Regions from separate parts of the Homo sapiens genome. Here region 1 is linked to region 2. A link means that fine-mapping ties the variant in region 2 to the expression of a gene that starts in the linked region. Tissue or cell type: whole blood. Region 2 holds a variant in brackets; the other region holds the start of a gene. All regions are shown on one strand. Distances are between the middles of the regions.

The links. PIP is the estimated chance that this variant, and not a neighbour inherited with it, causes the effect.
Region 1: it holds the start of EMP3, and the variant in region 2 is fine-mapped to the expression of EMP3 in whole blood (TOPMed, PIP 0.94).

What each region holds. Positions count from the first base shown.
Region 1 is chr19:48,322,199-48,330,375 of GRCh38, reverse strand. It overlaps EMP3 (epithelial membrane protein 3 (MAM blood group)), which reads right to left and starts at 4,824. Exons shown (of 5, transcript NM_001425.3): 1 at 4,766-4,824; 2 at 3,454-3,546; 3 at 2,753-2,855; 4 at 884-1,024; 5 at 1-75. The coding sequence starts at 3,531. It overlaps LOC124904735 (a long non-coding RNA gene), which reads right to left. Exons shown (of 2, transcript XR_007067284.1): 2 at 6,854-7,586. RefSeq lists enhancers at 825-974, 3,941-4,010, 4,301-4,350, 4,951-5,000, 7,901-7,960 and 1 more and silencers at 5,578-5,809, 8,141-8,177.
Region 2 is chr19:48,299,860-48,308,036 of GRCh38, reverse strand. ODAD1 (outer dynein arm docking complex subunit 1) reads left to right here. Exons shown (of 16, transcript NM_001364171.2): 8 at 1,714-1,781; 9 at 3,897-4,084; 10 at 4,253-4,387; 11 at 4,942-5,024; 12 at 5,175-5,343. Among named protein-coding and RNA genes, the nearest start is that of ODAD1, 18 kb to the left of the region's middle. RefSeq lists enhancers at 3,665-4,188, 4,189-4,713. The variant C/T (reference allele first, on the strand shown) is at 3,377.

The DNA.
Region 1 (8,177 bases), 22 kb before region 2:
CCCCTCGCGGGTGCTTCTCCAGGATCTCCTCGGCGTGAATGGCATAGATCAAGGCGCCAGTAAACACCGCCACGCCTGCGGAAGATGAAAACCACACGTCATGCAGTGCCCCCTCAAGACTACATTTCCCAATATCCCATGGGGGCAAAGAAGCGCCGGAGGGCCCGTGGGCAGCGCCGCTGCCTGCTGGGAGTTGTGGTTCTTTCCCCCCCGCCCAGCGCCGTGCAACTGTAGCGCGGCCTTAGGTAACTGATTTAATCTCTCTAGGTCCAATAATATCTCTCTATCCATCCAAGGAATATTTTTGAGTGTGTTTCTATAAGCCAAACATGCAGTAGTAAATTCATAAACCAAGAGAGAAGCTTTGCAAGAACCTATAATGTTCCCCAAACTGACTGTGATTAAGTTAGCCCTTTGCACCTTAAGTCAAAAAATTAAAAAGTACGCAAAACTTCTTGAAGTATCTGATGCACAATAGGCACGCAAGAAACAGCGGTTGGCTGATATAAATACCATTATTATTATGATTTAGAGCTCTCTACTGAGGTACTAATTAGTTTATCCCCCCACGTCACGGCCGATCCCTGGGACCAAAACTATTTACCTATACCTCCTTCCCCAGCCCCGGCTCCCTGAAACTCTGAGTTCCCTGATGACTCATACGCACAAGCCATAACTATCATTAGCCACTGAAAACTACAAGTCCCAGCAATCCCTGGGGGCAGAGATGTAGCCCACGGAGGCACCTCTTGTGGCTCGTGGGGTGTTGAAAGTTGTTTTTTTCTACGAGAGGCCCATTCTCAGGGCCCCCAGCATCTTGACACACCCCACTCCCTTCTGCTCAATTCTTGGGGGATTAGGGTTGGGGAGGGGCAGTGCTCACTGGTGCAAAGCTGGCAGAGGCCGGTGGCATAGAAGAGACCTCCTCGTCGCATGGTGTAGAGCTGGAACATGAACAGGATGAAGGAGAGACAGCAGAGAATGAGGGAGAGCACCATGAGGACCTGCACCGCCTTCAGCCAGCCTGCAGTAAGGAGGACACAGAGGGGGACATCACCGTGGGTCCAGAGTTCCAGCTTCACCTGCTTGCTCACCATGTGACCCTTCTCTGCCCCATCCCTGCTCCCGTTTAGGCCCATACAAGCCTAGATACTTAGATGTATCACTTATTTTGACCTTGAGCCCTGTTACCTTGCTATATTCCCTTCTCAGTTCTAGTAGTTGCTTTGCCAATTTCCTTTTTCTTTTTTTTCTGAAACCAGGTCTTGCTCTGTTGCCCAAGCTGGAGTGCAGTGGTATAATCATGGCTCACTGCAGCCTCGTCCTTCAGGGCTCAAGAAATTCTCTCACCCCTGCCTCCTGAGTAGCTGGGACCACAGGCACAAGCCACCACAACCTGGGTAATTTTTAAATTTTTGTAGAGACAGGGTTTCCCTATGTTGTCCAGGCTGGTCTTGAACTCCTGGGCTTAAGTGATCCTTCCTCCTCAGCCTCCCAAGGTGCTGGGATTACAGGTGTGAGCCACTGTGTCTGTCTGCTTTGCAGAATTTTAATGGATTTTCTACATAAACAACATGTTTACTGGGAATAGAGACACTTTTTCCTAATTTATTTCCCATGCCCTTTATTTCTTTTTCTTGCCTTCTTGCATTGGCTACTCCAGTAAAAGGTTGAATAGAAGTGGTGAGAGCAGACCACTTCCTTTAATCTTAGTTTTGCATTAAATCTTTCACACAGAACTTTAGATAGATGCAGCTCTATTCCTTTAGAACTCCAATGCACCTGGCCCCACCCCTTTAGAACCTTAAGTGGTTTCAGCCCCATCCCCTTGGAATTTGGATGAAATGGTCCCAGGCATCCATTCAGAGCACCAGCCCCATCTCCTTAGAGCTTTGGAAAAATACTCTTGTCTTCTCAGAATCTTGGGAGATTTTTCTCTATTCTTTTTTTTTTTTTTTTTTTTTGAGACAGAATCTTGCTCTGTTGCCCAGGCTGGAGTGCAGTAGTGCAATCTCAGCTCACTGCAACCTCCACCTCCTGGGTTCAAGCGATTCTTCTGCCTCAGCCTCCCAAGTAGCTGGGACTACAGGCGCACGCCACCATGCCCGGCTAATTTTTTTGTATTTTTAGTAGAGACGGGGTTTCATCATCTTGGCCAGGCTGGTCTCGAACTCCTGGCCTCGTGATCTACCCGCCTTGGCCTCCCCTCTCTATTCTTTAAACCTATAGCATGCTTTTATCTATATGGCCTCTTCAGAACAGGAGGTACTGGCTGGATGTGGTGGCTCACGCCTGTAATCTCAGCACTTTGGGAGGCTGAAGCAGGTGGATTAGCTGAAGTCAGAAGTTCAAGACCAGCCTGGCCAACATGGTGAAACCTGTCTCTACTAAAAATGCAAAATTAGCCAGGCGTGGTGGCACACACCTGCAGTCCCAGCTACTCGGGAGGCTGAGGCAGGAGAATTGCTCGGACCCCGGAGGGAGAGGTTGCAGTGAGCCAAGATTGCGCCACTGCACTCCAGCCTGGGCAACCAGAGGAAAACTCGGTCTCAAAAAACAAAAACAAAAAAAACAAGAGGTAGGTACATCCAGACAGGCGGGACATGCATTAGCCCTAGGCACTCAGCCACTCAGGCCTGGACCCCGCCCACTCCAACTTTGTTGGGGGAGGGTTCCCAATTCTCAGTCCCATGAGGACACGAAGGGTTTACCTTCCCCTTTGAAGACCAGTCCCGCCGCCCTCACCCCTCACCATTCTCGCTGACATTACTGCAGGCCCATGTTTTGGTGTCGTTGTTCCACGTGCAGTCGTACCAGAGATTCAGGGACTCTTTCCCAGGGAGAGTCCACCAGGACTGGGATGGACAGAGAACGAAACAAGGGGCAGGGTTAGGAAAGGAGAGGGGATAGGGTCAGGCAGACTGTGGGAAGGGCTGGGAAAAGGGCAGGGTATCTGGGATGGGGCAGAACTGGGGAGAGTTAGGATTTAATATGAGAGGGGGTAGGGTCAGGACAGGGAGGAGGCATCGGAGGTAGAGCTAAAAGGGTTAACCTGGTGGTTCATGCCTGTAATCCCAGCACTGTGGGAGGCCGAGGCAGGTGGATCACTTGAGGCCAGGGGTTCGAGACCAGCCTGGGCAACATGGTGAAACCCCGTCTCTACCAAAATAAAAAAATTAGCCGGGCTTGGTGGCAGGTGCCTCTAATCCCAGCTACTTGGGGGGCTGAGACAGGAGAATCGCTTGAACCCGGGAGGCCGAGGTTGCAGTGAGCCGAGATCGCACCACTGCACTCCAGCCTGGGGGACAGAGTGAGACCCTTGTCTCAAAATAAATGAAATAAAATAAAAAAGAAATACTAGGTAAAGGGGGTGGGGCCAGAATGCCTTTAGAGGAGGGGCGTGGCAAGATTCCAAAGGGGAACAGAAGGGCCCTGAGCTCCAAGTAGGCTTACCTTGTCCAAAGTGGCCACGAAAAGCAGTATAAGAATGAGGATGTGAAGGGCTGAGACCACCAGCAAGAGGAGTGACATGGCTGCAGTGGAAGCCTGGGGAGGGGGAGCAGGGGACGGAGTCTCAAGAGGTTGGCACAGGCCAGGCACACTCACGCCTATAACCCCAGCACTTTGGGAGGCCGAGGCGGGAGGATCACCTGAGGTCAGGAGATCGAGACCAGCCTGGCCAACATGGTGAAACCCCATCTCTACTAAAAATACAAAATTAGCTGGGTGTGGTGGTGCACACCTGTAATCCCAGCTACTCGGGAGGCTGAGGCAGGAGAATCACTGGAATCCAGGAGGCAAAGGTTGCAATGAGCCAAGATCATGCCATTGCACTCCAGCCTGGGTGACAGAGAAAGACTCCGTCTCAAAAAAAAAAAAAAATTTGGCATAAAGGCAGGTGAGATGTCTCCTGATGGAGGAAGGGCATGGGTGCAGACTCCTGGGTCTCTCAGGGAGGAGACCGCTGGGGCCTGGATTCCTGAGATCCCCATTGGCTGGAGGGGTGGAGAGGGCCAAAGATGGACTCTTGGGTTCCTTGAATGAGGAGGACTAGCAATGTGGCTCCTCTCTCCCCAGAACCCTGACTCTGGGTTACATACAGGCCAGATAGTGAAAATTCAAGTTGAGACCCCACCCTGCACCCCGACATCAGGATTGAGGAGCTGCCCCCAGCAACAGGCATTCTTGACTCACACCACTCCTCTCCTGGGTTGAGGGGAGGAGGGGGACCTGGTGAGTCATCTGGTGACTCATCCCCACCCCCCCCCATCTCTAAGCACCAGGGAAACCCCAGCCCCTGGCTATGTCCACGAGGTCCTCACCCCACCCTGCTGCCAGACTGGTGACTGTTGGACATCTTCTGGAGGAAATGGATAGGATTCGCGCTGGGGGGAAGAGAGGCCCAAGAAGGAGTTAGCCTCCCAGGACTCTTTGGTGCCCAGGAACAGGGGACCTAGAGGTCTCCCAGATTTGGGGTGTTCTCATGCAATGCCCTGATCTCAGGGACCCCAGAGGACAGTGGACACCGCTGAGGGAAAAACTGCAGGAAGTTTTCCAGTGGAGGGCTCTGCTGGGACCCCAAAACTTTGCCGGGCCCCACCCCTTCCCATATCCCCACCTCAAGTGCTAAGAGATCACTTATTAAATTAAAAGGATTTCCAAGAGTCAGGGACGTCTCTCCCAGCCTGGGGGTGTCCTTCCCAAACTGCTACATTCCCAAGTAAATTAAGAAGTCCCAGCCCTGAATAACGGACTGGAAACTTACCGAGAGCCGCGAAAAAAGTCAGAGCTGGAGTCGGAGTCTTGTCCCTCGCTCGGGCCTCCGTGCCCCGCCCTTCTCCTCCCTCCTTTCACCCTCCCGAGGCCCCCGCCTCTCTCACCGCCTTCCTCCCTCCCTTGCTCTCCCCTCCAATCCAGAACCCTTTCTCTCTCGCTCGCTCTCCTTCTGCGTCTCTTCTCTCCCTCCTGCCCTCACTGTCTGGGCCTCCTTCTCTCTTGCTCCCGTTTCTCTTTCTCTCCTCCTCTCAATATATACTGACCCTTTTATAAACCCACCCTCACCGCACCCAGCTGAGGTCGGCTGCCAGTGGGAGGGCCCAGGCACTCCGGTTCCTCTTTCTTTGGGCCCCCACCCAATCCCTCCAGACAGACATCATCTGGGGCTCCCTCCCAGGGTTGAGATGAGAAACTCTTGGAATGGGGTTCTTGGGGGGGGCAAGCGTCAGGGGTGGGAGGGCCCGATTCTCAGGACCCTTGAGTTTTGAGGTCTTGCCCTGGGGCCGGATGTCTGCTTTCCCTGATGGAGCTTGGAGCTGGATAGGAGTCTGGGAAAAGAGGCCAGATTTCTGTGGCATGGACTTGAGATTGGGCTGGTGAAGTTGGCCCCGTGGTGGGGGGTCAGAGGATGGGAGATGAAATTTGTGAAACTCGGCAGGGCGTTGTGGCTCACGCCTGTAATCCCAGCACTTTGGGAGGCCGAGACGGGCAGATCATCTGAGGTCAGGAGTTCGAGACCAGCCTGGCCAACATGGTGGAAACCCGTCTCTATCAAAAATACAAAAATTAGCCGGGCGTGGTGGCGGGCGACTGTAATCCCAGCTACTTGGGAGGCTGAGCCATGAGAATCGCTTGAACGCGAGAGGTGGAGGCTGCAGTGAGTTGAGTTTGCACCACTGCCTTCCAACCTGGGGGACAAAGTGAGATTCTGTCGCAAAAAAAAAACAAAACAAAACAAAAAACAAACAAACAAAAAAAAAAACCTTGTGAAACTCTGGAAGCGGGGAGGAAGCGGAAGCTAAGAATCCCAGCGCCATCATTTCCTGGTTCAGTGACCTTGAGCCAATTATTTCACCCACCTGGGCTCCAGTATCTTAGTCTATGTTGAGAGTATAATAATGCTGACAAAATACTAATACTGATAATAATAATTCTGATACTTATGCTGAATGAATAAGGTAATACTGGCACACTCACACACCTAACCTGTTCCTTCCTTCATCAAACATTTATTGAACATGTACTCTGATCTGGGAGTTAATAATGAAAACAGACATGAGCCCTGCTGGTATTATGGAGCTTGTATTCTAGTAGAGGAAGACAGACAAGAGAAAACATCAATGATGAAGATAAATCTCAGATAAGGATAAGTGACTTGAAAAATAAATACAATAGGCTGGACGTGGTGGCTCATGCCTGTAATCTCAGCACTTTGGGAGGCCAAGGCTGGAGGATCACCTGAGGTCGAGAGTTCAAGACCAGCCTGGCCAACATGGTGAAACCCTGTCTCTACTAAAAATACAAAAATTAGCCAGGCATGGTAGTGGGCGCCTGTAACCCAGCTACTCAGGAGGCTGAGACAGGAGAATTGCTTGAACCCGGGAGGCGGAGGTTGCAGTAAGCTGAAATCACGCTACTGCACTCCATCCTGGGTGACAGAGCAAGACTCCATCTTAAAGAAAAAAAAAAATAAAAGAAGAAAAGAAAAATAAATACAATAATAAATCAAACAGAGTGATGGAGATAATGACAGAGTGCAGGGAAGACTACTTGAAACAGGAAAATCAGGGAAGGCCTCTTGGAGGAGGTAACATTTGAGCTGAAGACAGGAGTCATTTGAACGCTGGGGTTGGGGAGTGGTGGGGGGGCGTCGGGGGGAGAGGAAGTGCAAAAGCTCTTAAAGCTTTTGAGAACAAGCTCAGGTTGTTTAGGGAGCAGACAGAAGGGCCAGTGTGGCTGGAGCACAGGGAGACAGAGGGAGTGGTGAGAAGGGAAATCAAAGGGTGCCCTTGAAGACTAGGGGAGGGGCTTGGATTTCATTCTAAGTGCAGTGGAAAGCCATTAGGTTTTAACAGAGTGTAGTACCAAAGATTTTTATTTTTTTTTTGAGATGGAGTCTTGCTCTGTCATCCAGGCTGGAGTGCAGTGGCATGATCTCAGCTCACTGCAACCTCCACCTCCCGGTTCAAGCGATTCTCCTGCCTCAGCCTCCTGAGTAGCTGGGATTACAGGTGCCCGCCACCACGCCCAGCCAATTTTTGTATTTTTAGTAGAGACGGGGGTTTCTCCATGTTGGCCAGGCTGGCCTCGAACTCCTGACCTCCAGTGATCTGCCTGCCTTGGCCTCCCAAAATGATGGGATTACAGGCGTAAGACACTGTGCCTGGCCCCAAAGGTTTACTGTTAACTATTATTATTAATTTTGGGGATATTAAATTAGGGTCGGGGTGATGACTACTATGTACACGAGTCTCTTGGGAGGGGACCAGGTGCCCAGAACTCTGATAAATTGAGAGCAGGGGAATTCAAATCCTGGATCCAGGGAAGGGAACTGGATGATGGGATGTCTGGGTATCTGATGGGCCAGAGCTGGGTTTGGGATAGCTGTTGGTGATTCGGGCTCCCTGAGGGGGTGAGGGATGGACAGTTCAGTGCTTGGCTGGGTACCCCAAGACCTGGAAGCTGGAATACCAGTATAGCACAGACTCTAGAGCCACACTGGTTGGACTCAAAATCCAAGCTGTTTTACTCAATGGCTGTGTAATTTTTGGCAAGTTACTAATAACTTCTCTATGCCTCAGTCTCTTCATCTGAAAAATAGAGATAATAGTAAATACATTATAGGGCAGTTCTTAGGGTAGTGCTAGTCATATCAGGCATTGGGGCTCTGAGTGGAGTCAGTACTGGGGGACCCTGATTCAGGATCTCTAGGAGTTGGGGAAGGGGCAAATTCTTGGGTCCATTGGGTCTCAAGGCTAAAGTTGGGAATCCAAAATGAGGGTCCCTGGGGGAGAATAAGTAGTCTCAAACTTAAGTGCCTGAGAGACAGAAACTGGGGTCCGCACTCAGATCCCTAAGGAAGTTGCAAAGTCTGGGTCACTGAAGGAAAAATTAGGGGCTGGGGAGACATACGTTCCTCTTGGGGAGCAGGAAAAGAGGGCTCCACTTTCTTGAGAGGACTAGGGGGAGCCAGGGGCTAGGAAGATGGAAACTTGAGCCGGGGAGGTGAAAAACACGAGTCTAGGACTCAGAATCAAGTTCCCTGAGTGGGATCGGCGCCAGGCTTGGGTACCCTGGGGATATTAGGGGGGTCCCCGCACTATGGCTATGTAGAAGGGGAAGAATCAAAGGATCTGAGGGTGGCGGCGGGATCTCCCCATCCTGGGCCTCCGAGATTATGA
Region 2 (8,177 bases):
CCCCTTCAAGCTGGCTTCTGTGGCCTTTGGACATACCCCATCACTTTTTGGGAGTACTTCCTCACTTTCTGGCACACGAAGATAGTCTGGGTAATCTGGACCTTGTTCTGCCCCATCCCTGGGGTTGGCCATTTTTCTGAGGAGTCCCGGTTCTTTCTAGGGAAGAGTAGGTGTTGAGGCACTAAGAGACCGTTTTCTTTTTTTTTTTTTTTTTGAGACGGAGTCTCGCTTTGTCACCCAGGCTAAAGTGCTGGAGTGCAGTGGCATGATCTCGGCTCACTGCAAGCTCCGCCTCCCAGGTTCACGCCGTTCTCCTGCCTCAGCCTCCCGAGTAGCTGGGACTACAGGCACCTGCCACCACGCCCGGCTAATTTTTTGTATTTTTAGTAGAGACGGGGTTTTGCCGTGTTAGCCAGGATGGTCTCGATCTCCTGACCTCGTGATCCGCCCACCTCGGCCTCCCACAGTGCTGGGATTACAGGCGTGAACCACCAGCCTGGCACTAAGAGACTCTGTTGCTACTTGGGTGTCATTGCTTTGAGGCCCTTCCTCTGGAGAGAGCTAGGAAGCACACATATTTTATATGTTTTAAAATTCTATTTATGTTTTGTAGAGATGGGGTCTTACTATGTTGTCCAGGCTGCTCTCAAACTCTTGGGCTCAGGTGATTCTCCTGCCTTGGCCTCACAAAGTATTGGGATTACAGGCATGAGCCACTGCGCCTGGCTGACATATTTTACAATAGTGAGTTCACATTGATACCTCTGATTCCATTCCAATATCACCAGCTTTTTCCTGAGCATTCCTCATTTCATCTTTCTTTCTTTCTTTCTTTCTTTTTTTTTTTCTTTTGAGATGGAGTCTCACTCTTGTTGCCCAGGCTAGGGTGCAATGGCACGATCTCGGCTCACCACAACCTCCGCCTCCCGGATTCAAGCTATTCTTCTGCCTCATTGTCCCAAGTAGCTGGGATTACAGGCATGCACCACCACGCCTGGTTAATTTTTTGTATTTTTAGTAGAGACAGGGTTTCTCCATGTTGGTCAGGCTGGTCTCAAACTCCCGACCTCAGGTGATCCTCCCGTCTTGGCCTCCCAAAGTGCTGGGATTACAGTCGTGAGCCACCGCGCCTGGCCCTAATTTTGTATTTTTAATAGAGATGGAGTTTCTCTATGTTGGCCAGGCTGGTCTCGAACTCCCAAGCTCAGGTGATCTGCCCGCCTCGTCCTCCCAAACTGCTGGGATTATGGGCCTGAGCCACCGCACCTGGCCCTATTATTATTTTTAAATAAAGTTCACTTGCTTCCATTTGCATTCAGTTTTAGTTTTCTCTCCTCTCTTTATTGATTTAATTTCCTTTATGAATATGTAAAACATTAACAAGGTTCTCAAATCAAACTATTCCAAAAGGTCTCCTAGGGAAACGTCATTTCCTCTCCATCTCCTCCACCTCATTTCCACCCAGTCCCCGTAGGTTACTAAATATTTTCTTAGTTTCTGCTTATCTACAGAAAGAGCCTTTTGATCCAGCTTATCAATTTGACTTCACACCTCTTTAAAATCCCTTTCATGGGCAGTCGCTAATGAGGAGGGTCCACATTTGGAAGGCTCAAGAGCTTTACTCCTTATTGGAGAAGCACGGGGCCAAAAGGAAAGACTTCGAGCAATGGGGTTGTAAGAAGTGGCACTGATTTTTTTCTCCTCCCCCCACAGGAGATCCACCACCTGCATCACCTGGTCAGCACCCTTATCCTCTCCTCCACCTCTGCCTACGCCGTCAGGTAGAGACTGCGGGTATCCTGGGATGGCGGGACCCAGATGACTCAGGACGCACCTTTCCATAAGGCAGTGATGGGAAGGTTCAGGACTCATGAAACACGTCAGAACCTATTTTTTCTCCCATAATATCCCCTTTTTCTCTCTCCCCGCCACCAGTTCCCCACCTCCACTGGCAAGGTCCTGTTCTGTCTTTTTTTTTGAGACAGAGTCTGGCTCTGTCGCCCAGGCTACAGTGCAGTTGCGCTATCTTGGCTCACTGCAACCTCTACCTCCCAGGTTCAAACAATTCTCCTGCCTCAGCCTCCCGAGTAGCTGGGATTACAGGTGCCCGGCACCGTGGCTGGCTAATTTTTGTATTTTTAGTAGAGATGGGGTTTCACCATCTTGACCAGGCTGGTCTTGAACTCCTGAGCTCATGATCTACCCGCCTCTGCCTCCCAAAGTGCTGGGATTACAGGCATGAGCCATTGCACCCCACCGGCCCTGTTCTTTTTCTTGGGCATGTAAATTAACCTCTACTGACCCCATCTAGCACATAAGAATGTATCTACTGGCTGGGCGAGGTGGCTCACGCCTGTAATCCCAACACTTTGGGAGGCCAAGGCAGGCAGATTGCTTGAGCTCAGGAGTTCGAGACCAGCCTGGCCAACATGGTGAAATCCCATCTCTACCAAAAATATAAAAACTTAGCTGGGCATGGTGGCGGGTGTCTGTGGTCCCAGCTACTTGGGAGGCTGAGGTGGGAGGATTGCTTGAGCCCTGGGGGCGGAGGTTGCAGTGAGCCGAGATTGCACCACTGCATTCCAGCCTGGGCAACAGAGTGAGACTCCGTCTCAGGAGAAAAAAAAAAAAAAAGCGCATCTAGCACATATATAGTGCAGCAGGGTTCCTGGAAGCATCTGGCGAATTTGTTATTCGTCAGCATTGGTTGCAAGGGACAGAGATCCTCTCGGGCCACCTTCAGATAGAGGCACACTGTAAGGAGTTGAGGAGCTGAAGCTGCTTTAGGTGTTGGCTTCTCTCTCCCTCTCTGGGGCTCTCATGAGCTCCATGCTCTCTCTCTCACTCCATCCCTGTCTCTTTCTCAGCTTCGCCCTCTTCTTTTGCTCCAAATGCTTTCTTACCTTCTACTAAGTTCTTCTCTGGCTTCTGTTTTCTCATGGTCCCTGATCGACATCAGCTGTGGCCTGGGTCGGCCTTAGGGTCTCTGTGATTTCTCTCTTTCTCTCTCTCTGTTAAAACAAACGTGGCAAAATTCACCATTTTAAAGCGTAGAATGTAGCAGCATTTAGTACATTCACGGGGCCGTGCAACCGCACCACTTCTGTCTAGATCTGAAATATTTCCATCACTCCAAAAGGAAAACTACCTGCCACCGGGAAGTACAGGAATCCTCGCTTTTTAGTCTTACTTGGGAGAAAGAATTCTGCCAAGAGACTGATTTAGCCAACAAAGAGAATTTACTGAAGGCAAATAGAGAACAGAGAGTTTACCTAGAGAGAGACAGTACACTCTGAAGGATGAGGAGAGCAGGCTGCTGAAAGAACGTGAGCCAGCAGCACACCGAGAGTTTTGTGTTGTGTTTCTAATATGATGT[C/T]GCACTCTTTTGAAGTTCTTGCTTCTGTCTTTTTTTTTTTTTTGAGACAGTTTCGCTCTTGCCACCCAGGCTGGAGTGCAGTGGTGCGATCTCAGCTCACTGCAATCTTCACCTCCCAGGTTCAAGCGATTCTCTTGCCTCAGCCTCCCAAGTAGTTGGGATTACAGGCATGCACCACCAGGTCTGGCTAATTTTTGTATTTTTAGTAGAGATGGAGTTTCACCATGTTGGCCAGGCTGGTTTCAAACTCCTGACTGCAGGTGATCCTCCTGCCTCCCAAAGTGCTGGGATTACAGCCTGAGCCACCGTGCCCAGCCAGTTCTCTGCTTTTTGTGACCACAGGATAACTGCAACCTGATTCAGCCCCATTCCTGTGACCCCAGGCTGGCCCTGCCCATCTGGGACACCAGCTGACTCCACCTCACCCCCCACAACCTCTGGCTGACCCCGCCCATCCCCAGGACCCCAGGCCGACCCCAGTCCAGCCTCCAGTCATCCTGACCCCGGCTGACCCCCGCAGGGAGGAGGCGAAGGCCAAGATGGGCTTGCTGCGGGAGCGCGCGGAGAAAGAGGAGGCCCAGAGCGAGATGGAGGCGCAGGTCCTGCAGCGGCAGATCTTGCACCTGGAGCAGCTGCACCACTTCCTCAAGCTCAAGAACAACGACCGGCAGCCGGATCCCGATGTCCTGGAGAAGCGTGAAAAGCAGGGTGAGGCTGGGGCTGCTGCCTTTGCATCTCAAGGGCCTGGCCGCCCCTGGGGCACCTGCAGCACACCTTCGTGCCCCAGGTGGGACCACACTTCGCTCCCCCTCACCCAGGAGGTCTCTGTGTTGGAGGCCACCCAGGAGGCCGACCTGCTGTTCTCTCTTCCCCTAGCCGGGGAGGTGGCCGAGGGCGTCTGGAAGACCTCCCAGGAGAGGCTGGTGCTTTGCTACGAGGACGCCCTGAATAAACTGTCCCAGCTGATGGGGGAGAGTGACCCTGACCTGTTGGTGCAGAAGTATCTGGAGAGTGAGTGGGGCCCTGGGTGGAGGGAGGAGGCCCGGGACCCCGGCACCCCCTGAGTCCAGTGCAGGCTGGCCTCAGCTCTGGCCCTGGGGAACTCCTCCATCTGTGCTGGAGGAACAAGGCGTCATGCCTGGGACCCGCCGCCCGCGTCCACTGGCGTCTTACCGTGGCCCTGTCTCTGCCCCTCCCCACCCCCTCCTAACTCCTGGGCCTGGGGTCACTCTCCACATCCTTCCCTCAACCCTGTCCCTCTCTGTTTCTCTCCTTACCCATATCTACCGTTCTCCCCGCCTGCATCTCCCCATCTCCCTTGCTATTGCCGAGTCTCTGGCTTTCCCTCTCTGCCTTGCTGTGTATTTCTGTGTCCCACCTGCCGTATCTTCCCACACCTCTTTGTCTCTGTGACTCCTCTCTGTTCGTCTCTCTGCCTTGGTTTCTGTGTGGCCTTCCTCATCTTCACTTTCTTTGGCCTTCTGTATGCCTCTCTGTCTCTGTTCTCTCTGTCTCTGTTTCTCTGTCTCCCTCTCTCTGGGCCCCGCCTTGCCCAACTCTCCCAGTCGAGGAGCGCAACTTTGCTGAGTTCAACTTCATCAACGAGCAGAACTTGGAGCTGGAGCATGTGCAGGAAGAGATCAAGGAGGTGAGTGAGGCCTGCCCTCTCCATCTCCTCCTCTCCTCCCGGCCTCCCCGCCCCCTTCCCTCCCTCAGCCTGCCTCCTGCTTCTTCCTAGCTCCACACCCCCAACTCCCGAGGCTGCCATCTGGCCCAGCATTCAGCCCTGTCCCCACAGATGCAGGAGGCTTTGGTGAGCGCACGTGCCAGCAAGGATGACCAGCATTTGCTGCAGGAGCAGCAGCAGAAGGTGTTGCAGCAGCGCATGGACAAGGTGCACTCGGAGGCTGAGCGCCTTGAGGCCCGCTTCCAGGATGTGCGGGGACAGCTGGAGAAGCTCAAGGCTGGTGAGCACCCATGGGCGCCCCCTCCCGAGCCTGGCTTCTCCACTTGGAAGGACACCATCAGCCCGCGGGGCTTGGAGGCATTGCATGGACAACCTGGTTCACTTGCTTATCAGTTGCCCCATATCTGTCCATCTTTCCAACCAGGGTCTATCCCTCCAACTGTCCCATGTCCATCTATCCATCCATCATCTGTCCCTCCAACTGTCCTACACCCATCCATCCATCCATCTATCAATGCATCCATCCATCCATCTAGGGTTGATCCCTCCAACTGTCCCATATCCATCCATCCATCCATCCATCCATCCATCCATCCATCCATCCATTCAACGTCTGTCTCTCCAATTATCCTATATCCATCCATCCATTCAGAGTCTATCCCTTCAACTGTCCTATATCCATCATCCATTCAGGATCTATTCCTTCATCTGTCCTATATCTATCTCTCCATCCAGGGTCTATCCCTCCATTCTGTCCCATATCCATCTATCTATCCAGGGTCTGTTCCTTCATCTGTTCTATATCTATCTACCCATCCAGGACCTACCCCTCCATCTGTCCTATATCCATCCATCCATTCATCCATCCATCCATCCATTCATCCACCCATCCATCCATCCATCCAGGGTCTATTCCTCCAACTGTCCTGTATCCATCATTCATCCAGGATCTATTCCTTCATCTGTCCTATATCTATCTCTCCATCCAGGTTCTATACCTCCATCTGTCCCATATCCATCTATCTATCCAGGGTCTATTCCTTCATCTGTCCCATATCTATCCATCCAGGATCTACCCCTTCATCTGTCCTATATCCATCTGTCCGTATATCCATCCATCCATCCATCCATCCATCCATCCATCCATCCATCCATCCAGGATCTATTCCTCCAACTGTCCCATGTCCATCCATCCATGCAGGGTCTATCCCTCCAACTGTCCCATGTCCATCCATCCATCCAGGGTCTATCCCTCCATCTGTCCCATGTCCATCAATCCATCCATTGTCTATCTGTCCATCTGCCTCCAACAGCCCCACATCCATCTGTTCATCCATCTATCTGCAATGACATTTGACTTTTGTCTTCCTAGTCTTAGTCTTAGTTACCAAATTTCTTCTTAGTCTTAGTTACCAAATTTCTTCTTAGTCTTAGTTACCAAAAATGTTATTATTTGTAAAGAAAATGATGATAAAATATAATAGCAATGTTTATTATGTGTCATTCACTGTGCAAGGCACTTATGCATTATTCCACTTGTTTCACAAAACACTAAAAAACAGATGCTGTCCCTCCAACTGTCCCATATCCATCATCCACCCATCCATCCATCTACCCAGTATTCATCCATGGATCATCCATGTACATCTCTGTCTATAAATGCCTAGCAGTGGGACCGATGGGTCTTAGGGTAGGTATATGTTGATATTTATTAGAAAATGCCGAACAGTTTTCCACACTGGTCGCAAGATTTTATGCTCTCACCTATGCGAGCATATGGGAGTCCCCGATGATCCACACCTTTTCCACCACTTCCTAGTGTCAGCCATTTTTTATCTTGTTTTGTTTTTGAGATGCAGTCTTGCTCTGTCACCAGGCTGGAGTGCAATGGCATGATCTCGGCTCACTGCAACCTCCGCTTCCTGGGTTCAAGCGATTCTCCTGCCTCAGCCTCTCCAGTAGCTGGGACTACAGGTGTGCGCCACCACGCCCAGCTAATTTTTGTATTTTTAGTAGAGTCGGGGTTTCATCACGTTGGCTAGGATGGTCTCGATCTCTTGACCTCGTGATCTGCCCGCCTCGGCCTCCCAAAGTGCTGGGATTACAGGCGTGAGCCCCCGTGCCTGGCCGTCAGCCATTTTAATATTAGCCATCTAACGTGTGTGCCGTACTCTCTCTATTAATTTAATTGGCATTTCCCTGGTGACTAATAATATTGAGCATCGTATTGGCCATTCAGATGTTTTTGTAAAGTTCCTGTTCAATCTTGTGCACTTGTTTTTTTAAAAATTGGGTTTGTCTTGCTATAACTGAGTTGAAGGAGTTCTTTGTATATTCTAGATACTAGACTTTTGGTAAATATTTTCTCTTATACTGTAGCTTGCCTTTTCATTTTTTTTGGTGATGAACTGAAGTTTCTTAGTTTTGAGGATATCTAATTTATGAAATTTTCTTTTTGTAGTTAATGACTTTGTGGCCTGCCTAAGAAATTTTTGCCTGTCCTGAGGTTACAAAGGCATTATGCTGTGTTTTCTCCTAGAAGTTTCATTGTTTGAACTCCCACATTGAAGTCTGTGACTTATGACAAATTGATTTGCATTATGGTATGAGGTAGGGGTCTAGAGTTTCCTTTTTAAAAATTTTTTTAGATTTTTTTCATTTATTTATTTTTTGAGAGGAATTTCGCTCTTTTGCCCAGGCTGGAGTGCAGTGGCACAATCTCGGCTCACTGCAACCTCTGCCACCCAGGTTCAAGCAGTTCTGCCTCAGCCTCCTGAGTTGCTGGGATTACAGGTGCCCGCCACCACGCCCAACTAATTTTGGTATTTTTAGTAGAGACGGGGTTTCGCCATGTTGGCAGGCTGGTCTCAAACTCCTGACCTCAGGTGATCTGCCCGCCTCAGTATCCCAAAGTGCTGGGATTACATATGCATGAGCCACTGTGCCCGGCCCTTTTTTTTTTTAGAGATAGGATTTTACTATGTTGTCCAGGCTAGTCTTGAACTCCTGGACTCAAGTGATCCTCCTGTCTTGGACTCCCAAAGTGCTGGGATTATAGGCATGAGCCACCACTCCTGGCTGAGTTTCTTTTTTTTTTTTTTAATCCCTTCTGTG